Linked DNA regions of Homo sapiens: regions 1 and 2 are each linked to region 3. The links come from fine-mapping of genetic effects on gene expression. A gene starts in region 3. Each other region holds a variant in brackets. All regions are shown on one strand. Distances are from middle to middle. Region 1 overlaps IFT46 (intraflagellar transport 46). Region 2 has its middle 14 kb from the start of BCL9L. Region 3 holds the start of ARCN1 (archain 1 coat protein complex I subunit delta).

Region 1 (6,276 bases), 28 kb after region 3:
CTACTAAAAATACAAAAAATTAGCCGGGCGCTGTGGCGGGCGCCTATAGTCCCAGCTACTTGGGAGGCTGAGGCAGGAGAATGGCGTGAACCCGGGAGACGGAGATTGTAGTGAGCCAAGATAGCGCCACTACACTCCAGCCTGGGCGAAAGAGTGAGACTCTGTCTCAAAAAAAAAAAAAAAAAAAAGAAAAGAAAAGAAAAGTAAAAGGAGCTGGACACGGTGGCTCATGCCTGTAATCCCAGCACTTTGGGAGGCTGAGGCAGGTGGATCACCTGAGGTCTGGAGTTTGAGACCAGCCTGGCCAACATGGTGAGACCCCTGTCTCTATTGAAAACACAAAAAAATTAGCCGGGCCTGGTGGCGCACATCTGTAATCCCAGCTACTCAGGAGGCTGAGACAGGAGAATTGCTTGAATCCAGGAAGTGGAGGTTGCAGAGAGCCAAGATCATGCCACTGCACTCCAGTCTGGGCAACAGAGCAAGACTCCGTCTCAAAAAAGAATTTTTTTAAAGTATCAAAACAGAAAAGGAAACTGAACAAAGATGACCAACAGGTCCTTCCTAGCCATCATGTTTAAACTGCTGCACCAGCTCCCCAGCATTCCCCGCCCTCTGTCCCTGCTTTTTCTTGATAACACTTATCTTCTAACATACCATAGACTTTATTTACTTATTTTGTTCTTCCCTACTAAAATGTAAGCTCTACAAAGACAGATTTTTTTTGTATATGAAGAATTGATTGTAAACACACAGAATTTGGAAACAGTCTCTTTCCTCAGAGCATTTTGAAGCTGTAGTTGAGGGGAAGGTGTCTGATTAGGGGATTGAATAGCTAGGTTGCAGTACATCCATTCAGTGAAATACTATGCAATGGAATATTATTTGGCCTTATTTTGCTCTAATATGAAGAAATATCAGTGATATGTTGTTAAATGAAAAAAGCAAATTGCAGCAAGTTGCAGAACTATATGTACTCTGTTTTTTGTAAAAAGAGAAAAGTTTTAAGAAACCAGTAGTTTAAAAACTTCACACTGTGACTTGTTTAGATCCAGAGCCTGTTACCTGAGTTAGATGTCATGCCCATTTTCTCTGTTCATATGGTGTCCTGGAATCATTAGGCATTATAACACCAAGTAATGCATATATAACTGTTAATACTTGCCCATAACTTGGTATCAGTTTCTTTTTCACAGATTCCCACAGGAAAAGAGTATGGCAGTGTATTTTACCTATAAAACATATGACCAATTCCATACTGATCGGGGGAAAAAATAGCATGTTGTATTATTTTGCTAGGCTGCCATAACAAAGTACCATAGACTGAGTGGCTTAGACATCAGAAATGTATTATTTCATAGTTCTGGAGGCTAGTAGTCCAGTAGTAGTCCAAGATCAATTTGTTGGCATGGTTGATTCCCTCCCTCCCTTCCTTCCTTTTTTTTTACAGGGTATTACTCTATGCCCAGGCTGGAGTGCAGTAGCTCAATCTCAGCTCACTGCAGCCTCAACCTGCTGGACTCAAGCAGTCCTCCCACCCCAGCCTCCCAAGTAGCTGGGACTACAGATACTCAACACCACACCCGGCTAATTTTTTTGTAGAGATGGAATTTCACCATGTTGCCCAGGCTGGTCTCGAACTCCTAGGCTCAGGCGATCTGCCCACCTCAACCTCCCACAGTGCTGGTATTACAGGCGTGAAGCCACCACGCCCCACCAAGATTGATTTCTTCTGAGGGGTCTCTTCTTGGCCATCTTCTGTGTCTTCCCATGGTCTTCCCTCTGTTATGCGTCTTTGTCCTGATTTCTTCTTCCTATAAGGACACCAGTCATACTGGATTAAGGCCCACCCTAATGACCTTGTTTTAATTTAATTATCTCTTTAAAGATGTTATCTCCAAATATAGTCACATTCTGAAGTACAGGGAGTTAGGAACTCAATATCTGAATTTTAGGGGAACACATTTCAGCCCATAACCTGTGTCTTATGCTAGAAGCTCTTTTGCTTCAGAGAGAGAGAGTGGTTCTGGGACCACTGACACCATCCTTTTGACTTTGGTCCTTCCATGCCCCTTCCAGGTAAGCCTGCCCACGGCAGAGATTGATTGCAGCCTGGCAGAGTACATTGACATGATCTGTGGTGAGTTCCTCTTTCCTTTCCTCGTCCCCATCTCTGGATAGAGACACTCTAGGCTTTTGGACAGGCTTGTTTACTCTGGGAAGATAGTATCTTGAGTTTCAGCCTTCACTTTAAGCCCGTTGTGCTCTTTGGCAGCACTCAAAGGTGGTGTTTGGCTTATGTGACTACCTGCTGGGTATTTAACCCCCAAAGTCATAGCGACACCCCATCTGCCAGGGCTTTGCCTGTGCTAGACAGAAGGGCCTCTAATTCCCGGAGTTTGTTTGCTTCTGTTCCTGGAAGTTCTTCTTCGTTTCAGCCATTCTAGACATCCCTGTCTACAAGAGTCGGATCCAGTCCCTCCATCTGCTCTTTTCCCTCTACTCAGAATTCAAGAACTCACAGGTGAGCCAAGCATCAGGGGTTGACTTAAGCTGTAGAGAGGATCACTATAGTTTCTACTGTTCTGAGCCTGCTGTGATTGCATCCTATAGCGATGTAGGATGTCTCTGCCCAGTTACCTTCGCCCTTTCCCATAATTAGGAGAGCAAAGGAGGCAGGGATGGAGTTTTCAAGGGGAAAGTGGAGGAAAAAAAAGGGTGGGTGGAAGTAGGAGTTGTGGGCCTTAGATGAAATCAGGTGAGGATCTACAGAGGACACTCGTTCTTTCAGAACCAAGTTCCCTCATGAATGGAAGCAGGAAGGAAATAAAGGGGGTTCATTTTAAAGAAATTAATTCTTGTTAAAATATAGCAATTAGCATATCCCTAATACTCAATATTCCCTCTCCTCTTCCTTGCAGCATTTTAAAGCTCTCGCTGAAGGCAAGAAAGCATTCACTCCTTCATCCAATTCCACCTCCCAAGCTGGAGACATGGAGACATTAACCTTCAGCTGAGACACTTCCCAAGCTGCTGTTTCAAGGCTGAGCTGGCCCCTCTGCCCCAGCTGAGATGGACAGATCGTTGTCAGCTACTTGATGTCCTTGCCCATGCCACAGCTTGGCTCAGGGGCAGTGCATGTCCTGCTGCCCTCTCTGCCAGAG[G/T]GCACAGAACATGTTTGTTTAATGAACCTGCCTGCCTCAGATTGCTGTCCCCGGGGAGTTAATGCATCTACACCACTGTGGGGATTTGAGTTATAAGAATTGGAATTTCTGAGATCCCATGGAGGTTAGATTGGGAGGAAAGCTTAAAAGATGTCCTTTTTGTGAGAGGGATGGAATTGTTTTCTTTCATTCGTAAAGTTAGTGAGTAAAGATTTTATAAATCAAATGCTCTATTATATTGTCAGATTATTCTGCTATTTAATATGAAAGAGAAAAGGCTGACTGAGCATAACGCAGAGACACAGGAACTTTGCTTAGTAATGGGCATTAAATGAAGAGTAGTTAAAGCAAACAAATTTTGTGAAATAAAATGAAACCCCAATCCTCCAAGATTGGCAGTCGAGGGGAATCATTTTTCCTCTGGAATTTAATTTTTCTAAGGGTCTCTCTTCAGTTAATGCCGCCTTCCTGAGGCTGTCTGGCTCCAGACCTGTCTGGTTCTGGTCTCAGGGAGCGTAGCTATTGCGGTAATCCAGGTGAGAGGTGATTGGGGTGGCAGTAGTAGAGATGGACAGATTCAGTAAATATTTTGGAGTTATGTCAGCCAAGCTCCAGTCAGGAAGTCTGAAACCATGCTAGTTATTTCTAACAAAGGGTGTTTAGCCAGGCACAGTGGCTCACGCCTGTAATCCCAGAACTTTGGGAGGCCCAGGCAGGCAGATCATGTGGTCAGGAGTTCGAGACCAGCCTGGCCAATAATATGGTGAAACCCCACCTCTACTAATAATACAAAAGTTAGCCGGGTGTTTTGGTGCATGCCTGTAGTCCCAGCTAGTCAGGAGACTGAGGCAGAAGAATCACTTGAATCCGTGAGGTGGAGGTTACAGTGAGCTAAGATCGTGGCACTGCACTCCAGCTTGGGCAACAAAGCAAAACTGCATCTCAAAAAAAAAAAAAAAGGGGGTGTTTAATATGGGGAATTGGCCAGGTGCAGTGGCTCATGCCTGTAATCCCAGCACTTTGGGAGGCTGAGGCGGGTGGATCACTTGAGGTCAGCAGTTCAAGACTGGCCTGGCCAACATGGTGAAACCCTGTCTCTACTAAAAATACAAAGAATTAGCTGGGTGTGGTGGTGGGCACCTGTAATCTCAGCTACTCGGGAGGCTGACAGGAGAATCACTTGAACCCAGGAGGTGGCAGTTGCAGCGAGCCAAGATCGCGCCACTGCACTCCAGCCTGGGCAACAGAGCAAAACTCTTTCTCAAAAAAATATATAATAATATGATAAATTGGTTACAAAAGTGTTGTAGAGGCTGAAGGAGCAAAAGGGAGAACGGAGGGTACTGAGGAACATAAAAGTCAAAGGGGTGGTAGTCATTGCCGGCGCTGGTAGCAGAGGTGCTGTCTAAAAAAACAAAACAAAACAAAATCGATACCATCAGCCTAATAGATACACAATAAACACATGGGTAGGAGAGGAACTGTTTCTTACAAACCCTTTAACTATGATCATCATGCTTGAGTTTAAGGAGCAGGCACGTTTGAGCTGATGACAAACTTTGAGCTGACAAAACTGAGGCTTACAGCAACCTCCACCTCCCGGGTTCAAGCGATTCTCCTGCCTATGCCTCCCGAGTAGCTGGGATTACAGGCATGCACCACTACACCCGGCTAATTTGTTTTGTATTTTCAGTAGAGATGGAGTTTCACCGTGTTAGCCAGGGTGGTCTCAATCTGCTGACCTCATGATCCGACTGCCTCAGCCTCCCAAAGTGCTGGGATTACAGGCATGAGCCACTGCGCCCAGCCTCACCCAGCAAATTTTTGGTTTTTTGTTTTGTTTTGTTTGTTTGTTTGAGACAGAGTCTCGCTCTGTCACCGAGGCTGGAGTGCAGTGGTGCGATCTTGGCATACCGCAGCCTCTGCCTTCTGGGTTCAAGCAATTCTCCTGCCTCAGCCTCCCCAGTAGCTGGGATTACAGGCATGCACCACCACGGCTGGCTAATTTTTGTATTTTTAGTAGAGAAGGGGTTTCACCATGTTGCCCAGGCTGGTCTTGAATTCCTGCCTTTAGGTGATCTGCCTGCCTTGGCCTCCCAAAGTGCTGGGATTATAGGAGTAAGCCACTGTGCCCAGGCTTAATTTTTATATATATATTTTTTTGTAGAGACAAGTTCTTGTTATGTTGCCCGGGCTGGTCTCCAACTCCTGGCCTCAACTCATCCTCTGGTCTTGGCCTCCCAAAGTGCTGGGATTATAGGCATGAGCCACTGCGCCTGGCCCTCAATATTTATTTATGATTTGCTATTGTTTGCCTATTTGTCCCCTCCAAAACTCATGTTGAAATTTAATCCTCAATGCGGCCATATCAAGAAGTGGGGCCTTTAAGAGGTGTTTGGGTCACGAGGGCTCTGCCCTGATGAGTGGATTAATCCACTTATAGATTAATGGGTATTAAATGCATTGGCGGCTTATCATGGGAGTGGGACTGGTGGCTTTATAAGAAGAGAGACCTGACTTAGCATGTCCAGCCCCCTTGCCATGTGATGCTCTGCATTGCCTCAGAATTCTGCAGAGTCCCCACAAGCAAAAAGACCCTCACCAGATGTACCCCTCAACCGTGTACTTCCCGGCCCCCAGAATTCTAAGCGAATTAACGCAGGAACAAAAAACCAAACAGTGCATGTTCTTACTTGTAAGTGGGAGCTAAAAAGGCCAGGCACAGTGAGTCACACCTGTAATCCCAGCACTTTGGGAGGCTGAAGCCGGAGGACTGCTTGAGCCCAAACGTTTGAGACCAGCCGGGGAACGAAGTGAAACCACGTCTCTACAAAAAATACAAAATTAGCCAGGCATGATGGTATACACCTGTGGTCCCAGCTACTCGAGAGGCTGAGGTAGGAGGATCGATTAAGCCCGGGAGGTCGAGGCTGCAGTGAGCCGTGATTGTGCCACTGCACTCCAGCCTGGGTGACAGAATGAGACCCTGTCTTAAAACATATATAAAAATAAGTGAGAGCTAAACATGGAGCACACATGGACATAAACATGGGAAGAACAGACACTGTGGACCACTAGAGTGGTTGAAAAACTACCTATTGGATACTATGCT
Region 2 (6,460 bases), 370 kb before region 3:
GACTGTTCTAGGCTGAGAGACCTGCAAAGGCACAAGGTCAGAGAATGGGTCTGCTGGAGGGTCAGAGTAGAATTTGGGGAAGTCACTGGAGAAGTAGCTGGGAAAAGATGGAAGGCTTTTACAGTCCCTTTAAGGAATTTTAATTTTGATCCTAAGGATAAAAGGAAGCCCTTGAAGGGTTTTAAACTGGAGAGTGTGCTGATCACATTGTATTGAATACAGATGGCTCTTGCTGCAATGTAGAGATTGTGTTGGATGGATAGCTGGGAGACATTTTAAAGGCTGTTAAAATCAGATTCTAAGGCCAGGCACGGTGGCTCACGCCTGTAATCCCAGCACTTTGGGAGGCTGAGGCGGGTGGACCACGAGGTCAGGAGTTCGAGACCAGCCTGACCAACATAGTGAAATCCCATCTCTACTAAAAAATTTTAAAAATTAGCTGGGCGTGGTGGTGCGCACCTGTAATCCCAGCTACTTGGGAGACTGAGGCAGGAGAATTGCTTGAACCTGGGAGACAGAGGTTGCAGTGAGTGGAGATTGCGCCATTGCACTACAGCCTGGGCGACAGAGCGAGACTCCATCTCAAAAAAAAAAAAAAAAAAATCAGATTCTAGGCTGGCGTGGTGGCTCGTGCCTGTAATCCCAGCACTTTGGGCGGATCCCTTGAGGTCAAGAGTTTGAGACCAGCCTGGCCAATATGGCAAAACCGTCTCTACTAAAAATAACGAACGTTAGCCAGGCATGGTGGCACCTGCCGGTAATCCCAGCTACTCGGGAAGCTGAGCCAGGAGAATTTCTTGGACCTGGGAGGCGGAGGCTGCATCATGTCCCTGCAGCCAGGGTGACAGAGTGAGACTTTGCCTCCAAAAAAAAAAAAAAACAAACAAAAAGAAATCAGATCCTAGGCAAGAAACGATAGAAGAGGAGATTTGGGGAGAGGGCTTTTTTTTTTTTTTGAGAAAGGGTCTTCTACTGTTGCCCACAATGGAGTTTAGTGACATGATCATAGCTCACTGCAGCTCAAGCTTGGGCTCAAGTGACCCTCCTGTGTCAGCCTCCCAAGTTAGCTGGGACTATAGATGTGCACCATCATGCCTGGCTAATTTTTAAAATTTTTTTATTTTTTTGAGACAGAGTCTTGCTTTGTCGCCCAGGCTACAGTGCAGTGGCATGATCTCAGCTCACTGCAACCTCCACCTCCCAGGTTCAAGCAATTCTCCTGCCTCAGCCTCCCAAGTAGCTGGGACTACAGGCACACACCACCATACCCAGCTAATTTTTTTTTTTTTTTTTTAGTAGAGACAGGGTTTCACCATGTTGGCCAGGCTGGTCTTGAACTCCTGACCTCGTGATCCACCTGCATTCGCCTCCCAAAGTGCTGGGATTACAGGCATGAGCCACCGCGCCCTGCTATTTTTTTAAACTTTTTATTTGTACAGATGGGGTGTCAATGTGCTTCCCAGGCTGGTATTGAACTCCTGAGCTCAAGAGATCCTTCCGCCTCAGCCTTCCAAAGTGCTGAGATTATAGGCATAGGCTACTGCTCTAGGCAGAGGGCAAAATTGACAGGGTCTAGTGATGGTTTGACAGGGACAGTTGTGTGCGGTTTGGGGAGCAGAGTTAAGGAGGATGCTCCCAGGTCCTGGTTTGGGCAGCAGGGTGGATGACAGAACCGTCAGGGGCTAGAGAACACAGTGGGGGGTGGGAGGGGCAGGCTGTGGCGAGGGGCTGGGTGGAGATATTTGGGTCTTGAACTTGCCAATTTACGTGCCTGAAGGACACCCGGATGGAGGTATGTTGAGGGTGGCTGGATGTGTGGTCTGGAGCACAGGAAAGGTCAGCACAGGCGCAACAGCTGAAGCCTTGGAGAGGAGCAAGTGGATGCTGAGTGAGAAGACAAGGTGAAGGACAGAGCCTGGGGAGCCCCAACATTTATGGGCAAAGGAAAAGAGGAGACTGCAAAGGAAACCGAGAAACTTCCCTAAAAGGAAAAAGAATAGCCAGGAGGGAGCAGTATCCCAGGTGCCCAAGGAAGATGCTTGTGGGAGGCACAGCGAGCAGCATCAGGACCACAGGGAACCGAAGAGATGTGCTGAAATGTGCTCCTTGGATTTGGCAAGTCGGAGGAGTCACTGGAAATCTCTTCAAACTGGAGGGCATGCGAATCAGAGGGACTAAGCTGGGCAAGAGGATGCTGAAGGACTAAATGGCTGTGTGGAGGTTCTAGGACTCAGTGAAAGGGTAAGAGACCAGAGGGCCTCGGGAGGGCAGGAGGAGGAAAGAGAAGGATCCAACCCCCCGACCCCGCCACCCCATGCACTTCCTTAGATCTTTTTGGCTCCTGCTGGGCCCCCTTCTTAGTTGTCTGAAAGAACCTCTGATGGGCACAGGGAAATAGGGTTAGGAGGGCCTCCCTGGGATGCTGGTGGAGGGTGGAGGGTGGAGGAGAATGTATGAATGAAGCACCAAAGCAAGC[C/T]GATCCTGGGACGCCCTTCCCTCCAGGCCTTCGGAGGAAGGAGCCCTATCCTCCTTTGGAGAGGTGGGGCAGAGACCTGGCCTCTCCAGCCCAGTGGCCAAGGGACCCAACAGAATTGTGACCTTTAACCCCTCTTGGAGTCCAGGCATTTCTGACCCCCCACCCACCCCAACAGGGACTTCCAAGTTGGGGTGTGGCTCAGGCTGGTCCCCTGAGAGAACAGTGGGGGATGTTTCATGGTCACCAGAAGGAACAGCCAGGTATGATGGGAAGGGGTGGGAATGCTTTGGAATCCTATCCCATCCTCCTGGGGTTGGGGGGTGGTCTTGGCACAGCTGCCCAGGCCGCAGCCCTGAGCTTGGCCTTCTCCCGCCTCCCCAGGCCCTGTTTGATATGCACATCAGATACTGGTGCCCTTTGCAAAACTGTTACTTGTACAGAAACCTGAGGGAAGACGAAGGAGGGAAACTGCTCCCCTCTCTTTCCTCCCTCCAGCCACTTCCACTTGCAGGGACCTGCAGGGAAATGCCCACCCCCAGCGCTCTCCCTCACCACTCCGAGACTTGCAGCTTCCCCAGCTCCCCACGTGGCCCATGCTGGGAGTTTCTGCTCTGCCGGAAATGGCTGGGCCTTGGAGCTTCCCCCCACCCCCCGGGGCCTCTCTACCTCAGCCCTTCCTCCCCATTTCCCCAGCCCTGAGCTCAGCGCTGCCCTGCACCTCCTCCCCAGCCTGGAGTCTCGCTGGCTGTGGCATATTTGCCTCAAGCCTCCCCAGTTCCCTTCATCTCCAAGAATGGAGTTAGAGCCTCACCCTAGTCTGTCCGCTGAGCAGCTCCCGAGATGCCCACTGTGCCCTAAGGGTGCAGGAGATGGCAGCAGGGGATGGGAAGCAGGCCATGTGAGGCAGGCCAGGGCTAGGAGAAAAAGAATGGGCTTTGGAGCGGATGGGCCAGGATTACATGCCCTCTGCCTGCGGCCTTCCAGCTTGTGTCCTGGACCCGCTTCCTGTCTATGAATGGAGGTGGTAATACCACCCCACAGAGCCCTGGTGGGGACCAAATGAACAAGGAATGAAGTGCCCAACACGCTGCTTGCCACATAGCAAGTAGGTGCTTAAAACAACATCCTCCTCTCCTCCTCGGGATGCTGATGAAGAGGGTCTGTGCAGAGGACTCTCCAAGAGGCTAGGGGCACCTGGTGTGGGGGTGCAGGGCTCTTTTGTATCACTGAGGGGCCTTTGGGGGAGGAGGGGAGGGAATGCTGAGCCCTGGGCCACTCCAGTGCCTCTGCTCACTGCATTCCTTGGCCTGGCCTGGGGAGGACCTCTGGGAAAGGCTTCTCGCAGTGGAAGATCTCGTGGGGAGGGCCTGGTGTTGGGGGGACAGCATCTGGGTTTTGAACACCCTCGGCACATACAGACTCCCCCAACTCATAATCCGATTTATATTCCTACTCCCTCCTCTGGACCCATCACCATGGCAACAGTTTTCTCAGTTGCACTTCATCAGCTTCCCAGCGAATCTTTTCTCCTGCCCCCTCCTTAAGTCTCTTTTTCTCCTCCTCTGTCAGTCGGCCTTTTGAGGTACTCACAGCGCTCCCCTCCCCTTTGTCCCTCAGCTTCTGTTTCTCTCCTGCTCTTCACGAAGGTGTCCCTGCCTGCCTCTGTCCACATCTCTCTCTGTGGCATCCCTCCTGCCTCTCCCTTTTCAAGTGCACGATTGCAGCAACAAGCTGGGGTCTGTTGATTAGACAAGAACTTGTGTCCTTTCTGATATCAGGACAGAAAAGCAGAGTCCTGGAGGGTTTCGATTCCAGTGGGCTCTGCACAGATTTCTGTCTGCAGTGATGCAGTGGGTGGGTGGGTGTCAGCTTGGGTTGATCTTTGCAACTCTGACCAGGAGGCAGAGAATGGTGGGGAGGGAAAGCAGTGTGGGGCAGTTTCTTCTCCAGCCCTAAGTCATGGCTCCGGATGTGTCCTACAGGGTCCTGTCCTTGGTTCGCTTCCCAGCTCACCCTCAGAAACCTCACCCAATGCCTGCAGCTACCACTGGCATGCGGTGCTTCCCAGGAACATAACTTTGGCTCTGACTTCTCTTTCTCTGAAGTTCTAATCGAATCGCTTCACCTCCTCACTGGTCATGTCCACTTGGTATCCTACTGCCATGCCTAATGCAGTGACTAACCATGAACCATCTTCCCCAAGCCATCACCCCCTTCGTACTTCCCTGTCACTACCCAGAGTAAAAACCTTGGTGCTACGTGTGACTCCTCTCTCTGTCATCCTCCACACCTCACTTGAGTCCAAGGTGGATCAATTCTCCTTTGGAAATGTCATTCAGATCTGCTTCCTTCCCTTTGCCATTCCATACATATTATCCTAGACCAAGCCCCAGCCCCAGTGAGTCATCTCAGGCCCTCACAGTAGCCTCAGAGGTGGACTTTCCACTTGGGTTTACCACAAGTGTAGTCCCTCTTCAGAAACCAGACCTGGCCAGGTGCCATGGCTCATGCCTGTAATTCTAGCACTTTGGGAGGCCAAGGCGGGTGGATGACTTGAGGTCAGGAGTTCAAGACCAGCCTGGCCAACATGGTGAAACCCCCACTAAAAATACAAAATTACCTGGACATGGTGGCACATGCCTGTAATCCCTGCTATTCAGGAGGCTGAGGCAGGAGAATCACTTGAACCCGGGAGGTGGAGGTTCCAGTGAGCCGAGATCGTGCCACTGCACTCTAGCCTGGGCAATAGAGTGAGACACTACTAGACCTGGGCCTGTCCTGAGCATGACTTTCTTCTCCTCCTCCTCACCCTCCCATTTTTCTTCTTCATTTATTGAGCACCTGTTATGTACTAGGCTTGTCATATATGCTATCTCTTTTAATCTTCACAATAAATCCTAAGGTAGTTGTTATCGCATTTTACAGGAGAAGAAACAGATGCTCAGAGCGGTTAATTTGCCCAAAGTTCTACAGCTAATAAGCAATAGACCTGGAATTGTAGATCAGATCCAGATCTGTTGAGTTCCAGGGTTAGTGTTTTGTTTTTTTGCTATACCAGATTGTTCCTTGTATCACTCTTCACTCAAAAACCTTCTGAGCCTTTCTATTTTCTTCTTTTGAGGCTCATTTTGATCTGACTCCATCCCACCTACAAAACCATTTATTCTTGCTACTTCTCAGTGTGACATGGATTGGTACCAAGCGGAAGAACATTTGCATACTTTAGGGTTTTGTCTCCATCTCTTTCCTGTTAAATATTTTTATTAACAGCTTATATGAAAATATAGTATCACATTTCACAGATATAACCCTTGAGGGATAGTAAACATTGAAAGATAAGGATCCAAGAATCATCTCCATGTATAGAATGGTTAGGTAAACCTAACAGAATAAAGTGATCAGAGATCTATGTAAGACCTCAGCAATACACAGTGGGCCAGACATGGCTTAGAAGAAGTTCAGGTGAAAAAGAATCCGGGGTTTTAGTAAGTTCAGTCTAAGACATCAGCACTGGTGGGGCAGAGGGGATAGGGAGAAAGAAAAAGGGACATCAAGCTGGGTGCGGTGGCTCACATCCGTAATCCCAGCACTTTGGGAAGCTGAGGCGGGCAGATGACTTGAGGTCAGGAGTTCCAGACCAGCCTGGCCAACATAGTGAAACCCCGTCTCTACTAAAAATATAAAAATTAGCTGAGCATGGTGGCAGGCGCCTGTAATCCCAGCTACATGGGAGGCTGAGGCAGGAGAATCGCTTGAACCCGGGAGGCTGAGGTTGTGGTGAGCTGAGACCAACCGCGCCATTGCACTGCAGCCTGGGCAACAAGAGTGAAACTCCGTCTTAAAAAAAGAAAAGAAAAAGGGACATCAGGCCGGGCGCGGTGTCTCACGCCTGTAATCCCAGCACTTTGGGAGGCTGAGGCGGGCGGATCACCTGAGATCGGGAGTTCGAGACCAGCCTGGCTAACATGGTGAAACCCTGTTTCC
Region 3 (6,187 bases):
ATTCACCGCAATATTTTATACACATATACATGCACACACAATTCATGGTCATATTAAGGCTAGTTTCTATAATTGTCAGGGAGGACTGTTCTGTCTTTTCTATTTATATGAAGCTATTATAGATAAAATCAGAGAGAAGATTACAATAAAATGTAGACCACATACGAAACCTAAAACTTGAAAAGTAATTTACTCAGTGAGGGTTTTAAGTCCATCACATTTCTATTCTAAAACAAAAGCTTGCAGAGAATTAAAACACACACACACACACACACACACACCCGTTATCAGTTTCTGCAGTGAACTTCTATATGAAGACATAAATAGATGGCAAATCAATGGAAACTCAAGAGAATCATTTTCTTTCTTTGCTGTCCCTCAAAACACAATTAAAAAGATACATAAATAATACAGGGGCCGGGCGCCATGGCTCACACCTATAATCCCAGCACTTTGGGAGGCCGAGGCGGGCAGATCACGAGGTGAGGAGATCGAGACTATCCTGGCTAACATGGTGAAACCCCGTATCTACTAAAAATACAAAAAAGTAGTTGGGCGTGGTGGCAGGCGCCTGCAGTCCCAGCTACTCAGGAGGCTGAGGCAGGAGGATAGCTTGAACCCGGGAGGCAGAAGTTGCAGTGAGCTGAGATTGTGCCACTGCACTCCAGCCTGGAGACAGAGCGAGAATCCGTCTCGAAAACCAAACAAACAAGAAAAAAAGTCAGAACATGTTCTCATTAATTTGCAGAATACAAAAAAAAGATCAAATCAAGGCCCGCATGCCTACAGTCCCAGCTACTTGGGATATGGAGGCGGGAGGATTGCTTGAGGCTAGGAGTTCTAGGCCGCAGTGCACTATGATAGCGCCTGTGAATAGCTACTGCCCTCCAGCCTGGGCAACATAGTGAGACCCTGTCTCTTTAAAAAAAAAAAATCAAAAGATGCCTTTCTTTGTACTTTATTTTATGATGAAGTCATGAGAAAGCATTTGTTTCTGCATTTGTTCACTTATTTATCTATTGGAACTTTGCAGTCTAGGACATTCTGCACTTCAATAACTAAAGCCAAAGGGAATTTATTTTTTAAAAAATCAATGTTTACGTACTGATATCTGCAACTTACTTTGAAATGTATATTTTTTTTTAATGGAGAGAGGGATGGATGGATGATTAGATGCATGATAAAATATAGTGAAATGTTAGTTATAGAATCTAGTTGGTGGTTATATGGGTATTCACTACAAAGTTCTTTCAACTTTTCCAGATGTTGGAAAATTTCATAATGAAATGTTGAGCTAAAATAAACGCTGGAAATTTTGATACAACTTTTAGATAAAAATTTCACCCTATCTGGACATTTCTACTGTCCAGGGATCTGTTTGTAAAGGAGCAGGACCCAAAAACATTACACAGAAATCATACCAATGTCTTAACACTCTACAGAGCAGAATGTACTGAGATAAATTGTTCTCCAGAGTACACAAATCTGTGGGTATCTGGATCATGTTAAGTCCCAAATAATTCAGAAATATGTGACACAACTCTATGTATACGTACACATGTCAAAATAGCATGCAAAAGTTATATTTTATATATATCACGTAGGGCTTTACCATCCCTCAGTTATCAATGAATTAAAAATACTAAGTTCCAAGAACCTTTTAACAAAGAATATTTTTAGAAAGATTACCTTTATCTGGTTTATATAATACAAGACCTTAACTTTACTATTAAAATAAAAATATGCTCTAAAATGCATTATTAATTCCAGGGTGTAAACGGGAACTGAGTTTCAAAATCACTAACCAAATACAGAACCTCCTGGAGAAACTGAAAATACAAGTTTCTGGAAATTTTGTGTCCAACACAAAAATTTTAGGAGGCAAACCTGTTTGATGCAATTTATATACCTGAGGCTGAGAAAAGCTGTTCAGTGGCCTAAAGTCCAAGCATGAATTCCCCCCATTATCCAAGTTCTTATCTAAAGGGTTGTCAATAGAACTTATTAGGATTGCCACCAAATTACATTCTGCCATCTCTCAGGTACACTGGACGATGTTTTAAATCAAGTTATCTATTGACAAAAGAATAAAAAAGAACAGAACAGAACATCCTTCAAAAGACTAAAGGACATAAGGTGCACTGAAAAATAAATTACTAGCTTTTTTGAAACCAAAGAATGTCTACTACTTCATGAATATCCACAAATCACAGCGATAAAGGAAGATTGAGTGATGTCAGCAGTTCTGATTTCCTCCATCCTCAACCACATTAACCTTTCTCATCCTTGTAACAGATGAGTATACAAAGATAACGCATGGGAAGGCAAGTAACTGGTCTCGGAGGCTAACCCATCCCTCTTACTCCACCTCCTGTGAGACATCTGACTACGACATGCCACATACACATTTTTCTTCACCTGGACAATAAGTTCCTTGAAGGCAAACCCTGTGTTCTCTGGAACCTGCTCACATTTTCCCAGTGGTCTACACAGTGTATGTACCCCGAGTCACACTAACAAATGGACACAAGTGAGTTCTGCGGAAGTAGTGGAAGGTTTCAGAGACACTTGGGTCCTATACATTAGTGTTAGAAGTTACTCCTTTCCGCTCTGTGTCTCCATTTCCCCCTTCTGAACAAAAAGAAAAATTTCTGGACACCAGTGGATTTGCATTTCGAGTTATCAACGGCCTAGCAAACACCGGGGGTGGGAGACAAGCTCTGATTAACAGAAGGACCAGAACCTCCGGAGACAGGCCCAGCCTGCTGAGCCTAAGCGCCAGGGAACCGGCGGGACAGCATCAGTTCCGAGGTCCGCAGCCTGGGACCCGCACCACCACCACGAAGTTCTCGCAGAGCAAAAACGCCGGGCCGTCTCAGGGGCAGGTCCCAGCAAACGAGGGAGTCCAGCTGGTTGGGGGGTGGTGCGGAAGCGGGCACGACGACAGATGGACTGGAGTCAGCTCCATCGGATCTCCAGGAGACCGGGCACAGGAGGCCACACTGCTCCCCGAGCCCGGAGCAAAAGCACTCTGCCCTAGACCCTCAGGGCGGGGCTCCTCCGGCCCCTGCCCCAGGCCCGCCGACAAGGAGAGACGGTGAGGCTCGGACCCCAGGAGTTCGGGTCCTGGCTCGGATCTTACCATGGTGAGGGCGGTGGTGGGGCGCGCCCGCACTCCGGCTCCACTGGGGATAGGGGTAGGGTCTGGGGAACGGGAGCACCAGCAGCTCTGGACCTGCTGCCCCCTTGACAGGAACCGCTGCCGCTTCGCCTCTTGCCAAGATGGCGGCCCCAAGCCACGTCTTCAACCGGAAGCGGCGCAGGTCAAAGGGCGGGGGGGGGGGCGGGGCCTGTGGGCTGGGGAAATTGAGGGTACCCCGCTCCGGTTACGATTAAGCCCAGGAGGTGTAGGGGGCGTTCACCCTCCAGCTGTGGAACCTCGTATCTCTCCCCTTTCACTGTCATCGCCTTCATTTATTTTGCGTCACATCTTACAGTTTAACAAGCCGCTGGCACAGCCACTATTATTTAATATACAGGATAACCTGTGTGCCTAAAAGACCAGTATCCGGAATATATAAAGAACTTTTTTTTTTTTTTTTTGAGATGGAGTCTCACTCTGTCGCCCAGGCTGGAGTGCAATGGCGTGATCTCGGCTCACTGCAACCTCCACTTCCCAGGTTCAAGCGATTCTTCTGCCTCAGCCTCCGGAGTAGCTGGGATTACAGGCACGCGCCACACCACGCTCGGCTGTTTTTTGTATTTTTAGTTGAGACGGGGTTTCACCATGTCGGCCAGGCTAGCCTCAAACTTCTGACCCCAAGTGATCCGCCCGCCTCAGCCTCCCAATGTTGGGATTACAGGCGTCAGCCACCGCGCCTGGCCTAAGAACTCTTATAACTCAGCAATAAAAAGACAAATACAGTATTCCTGTCTAAAAATGGGCTTCATCTGCAAAATGGAGGGAGTAGAAAACACAAAATTAAAATGAGCAAAAGATTTGAATAGATATGTGTCCAAAGAAGATATATAAATGGCTAATATGCACATTAAGAAATGTTGAATATCCTTAGGGAAATGGAAATCAGACCCGTGGTGAGACGTCATTTCACACTCACTAGGATGGCTATCATAATAATTGTTGGTGAGGATGAATGTAAAATAGTGCAGCCACGTTGGAAAAGAGTTTGGCAGTTCCTCAAAAAGTTAAACAAAATTACCACATGACTGAGCAATTCCACTCATAGGTACATACCCAGGAGAACTGAATATATGTCAACACAAAAATGTGTACTCTAATGTTCATAGCAGCATTATTCATAGTAGCCAAAAAGTGGAGACAATCCAAACAAATCCATTCATCAATAGATGTGGCATATATATGCAATGGAATATTATTTAGTCACAAAAAGGAATAAAGTACTGACATGCTACAATATGGATGAACCTTGAGAATATTATGTGAAAAAAGACGGATACAATGGGGCACTCATATATGATTCCATTAATACGAAAGATCCAGAATAGAAGAAAATCCACAGAGACAGAAACTAGCTTAGTGATTTCCAGGGGCTCAGGAAGGGTAGGAATAGAGAGTGACAGTTAATTAGTGTAAGATTTATTTCTGGAATAATTAAAACATTCTGGAATTAAGCCAGGCATGGTGGCATGATCCTAGAGTCCCAGCTACTTGGGAGGCTGAGTTGGGAGGATGGCTTGAGACCAGGGGTTAAAGGTCAGCCTGTGCAAATTGTGAGACTTAGACTCTTAAAAAAAAAATAGTTCTGGAACTAGATAGAGGCAAATATACTAAAAACCACTAAATTGTATAATTTTAAAAGGTGAATTTTTATGATTTGTAAATTATATCTTTAAAAAAACATGCACTGGAAGCAGGGCAGTTGTGCTCATGTCCATTTTGTATATGAAGAAAATGGTGAAAAGTTTAAGTGACTTACCCAAAGTTTCTAAACCAGTATATGATGGAACCAAGACTCAAAATCTGTTCTTGTGATTCTCATGTTATTTCTTGTATGCCAAATTTCAGATTTTTCAGAGTATAGCTGATTCAGTAGTTCTTCCTTAAATCATTTTATCCTACATCCTTAGCTCAACCGAACAGCACTCATCCATATTAAACCTGTATGTCCACAATTAAGTATAATAGCAACTTTTAATTGAGTGCTTCATTTGTGTCAGGTACTTTACACATGTTATTTCCAATCTTTTACATCAATCCAAATAAAGATACTGAGGATCAAAAAAGTTAAGCATTTGTCCAAACTCACACAACTAGTAAGTGGTAGAGCCAAGTTCAAAGTCAGTTTTCTCCTGGCTGGGCGCGGTGGCTCACGCCTGTAATCCCAGCACTTTGGGAGGCTGAGGTGGGCGGATCACAAGGTCAAGAGATCGAGACCATCCTGGCCAACATGGTGAAACCCCATCTCTACTAAGAGTACAAAAAAAAAAAAATTAGCTGGGCATGGTGGCGCGTGCCTGTAGTCTCAGCTGTTCGGGAGGCTGAGGTGGGGGAATCCTTGAAGCTAGGAGGCGGAGGTTGGGTTGCAGTGAGCCGAGATCATGCCACTGCACTCCAGCGTGGCGACAGAGGGAGACTCCGTCTCAAAAAAAAAAAAAAAAAAAAAAAGCTGGGCGTGGTGTCTCATGCCTGTACTCCCAGCTATCTGGGAAGCTGAGGCATGAGAATTGGTTGAACCTGGGAGGCGGAGGTTGCAGTGAGTTGAGATCACAACACTGCCCTCCAGACTGGGCAACAGAGTAACACTCAGTCTCAAAACAAACAAACAAAAAAACAAAGTCAGCTTTTTCCATTAAAACACACTGCCTCTGTATCTCCTGTGTGTTCCCTAACATTTATTGAACACTTACAGCATACCAGCCATTACTCTAACTTCACACAGATTATCTCATTTAATCCTCACAAGAATCCTCTGAGATAGGTACCTTTATTGTCTCCATTTTACACATGAGGAAATCAAGGTACAGAGAAGAAAACTATCCCACCACAGGTCTCATGGCTAAAAAGTAGGTAAGCGAGGATTCAAACAAAGGCTGTTCAACTTTGGACTATACCCTTAAGCACTGCATTATAGACTTCTTGCTCTTACCCGTATCAATTCCATCTCCAATGGCCTTCTAATAGAAATCTTTAGAAAGCTCAAATATT

Evidence for each region. PIP is the estimated chance that this variant, and not a neighbour inherited with it, causes the effect. A credible set is the group of variants that fine-mapping cannot tell apart.
Region 1: its variant is the best candidate, but not a certain one, in a credible set for the expression of ARCN1 in whole blood (TOPMed, PIP 0.89).
Region 2: its variant is the best candidate, but not a certain one, in a credible set for the expression of ARCN1 in blood mononuclear cells (TOPMed, PIP 0.56).

What each region holds. Positions count from the first base shown.
Region 1 is chr11:118,541,657-118,547,932 of GRCh38, reverse strand. It overlaps IFT46 (intraflagellar transport 46), which reads left to right. Exons shown (of 12, transcript NM_001168618.2): 10 at 2,080-2,140; 11 at 2,439-2,524; 12 at 2,922-3,390. The coding sequence ends at 3,017. It also overlaps a transcript of TMEM25 not described here. Among named protein-coding and RNA genes, the nearest start is that of TMEM25, 14 kb to the right of the region's middle. The variant G/T (reference allele first, on the strand shown) is at 3,165.
Region 2 is chr11:118,937,054-118,943,513 of GRCh38, reverse strand. No RefSeq gene overlaps it. Among named protein-coding and RNA genes, the nearest start is that of BCL9L, 14 kb to the right of the region's middle. RefSeq lists enhancers at 2,319-3,098, 3,099-3,880. The variant C/T (reference allele first, on the strand shown) is at 2,477.
Region 3 is chr11:118,569,506-118,575,692 of GRCh38, reverse strand. It overlaps ARCN1 (archain 1 coat protein complex I subunit delta), which reads right to left and starts at 3,284. Exons shown (of 10, transcript NM_001655.5): 1 at 3,143-3,284. The coding sequence starts at 3,145. It also overlaps a transcript of IFT46 not described here. RefSeq lists enhancers at 2,903-2,982, 3,493-3,622.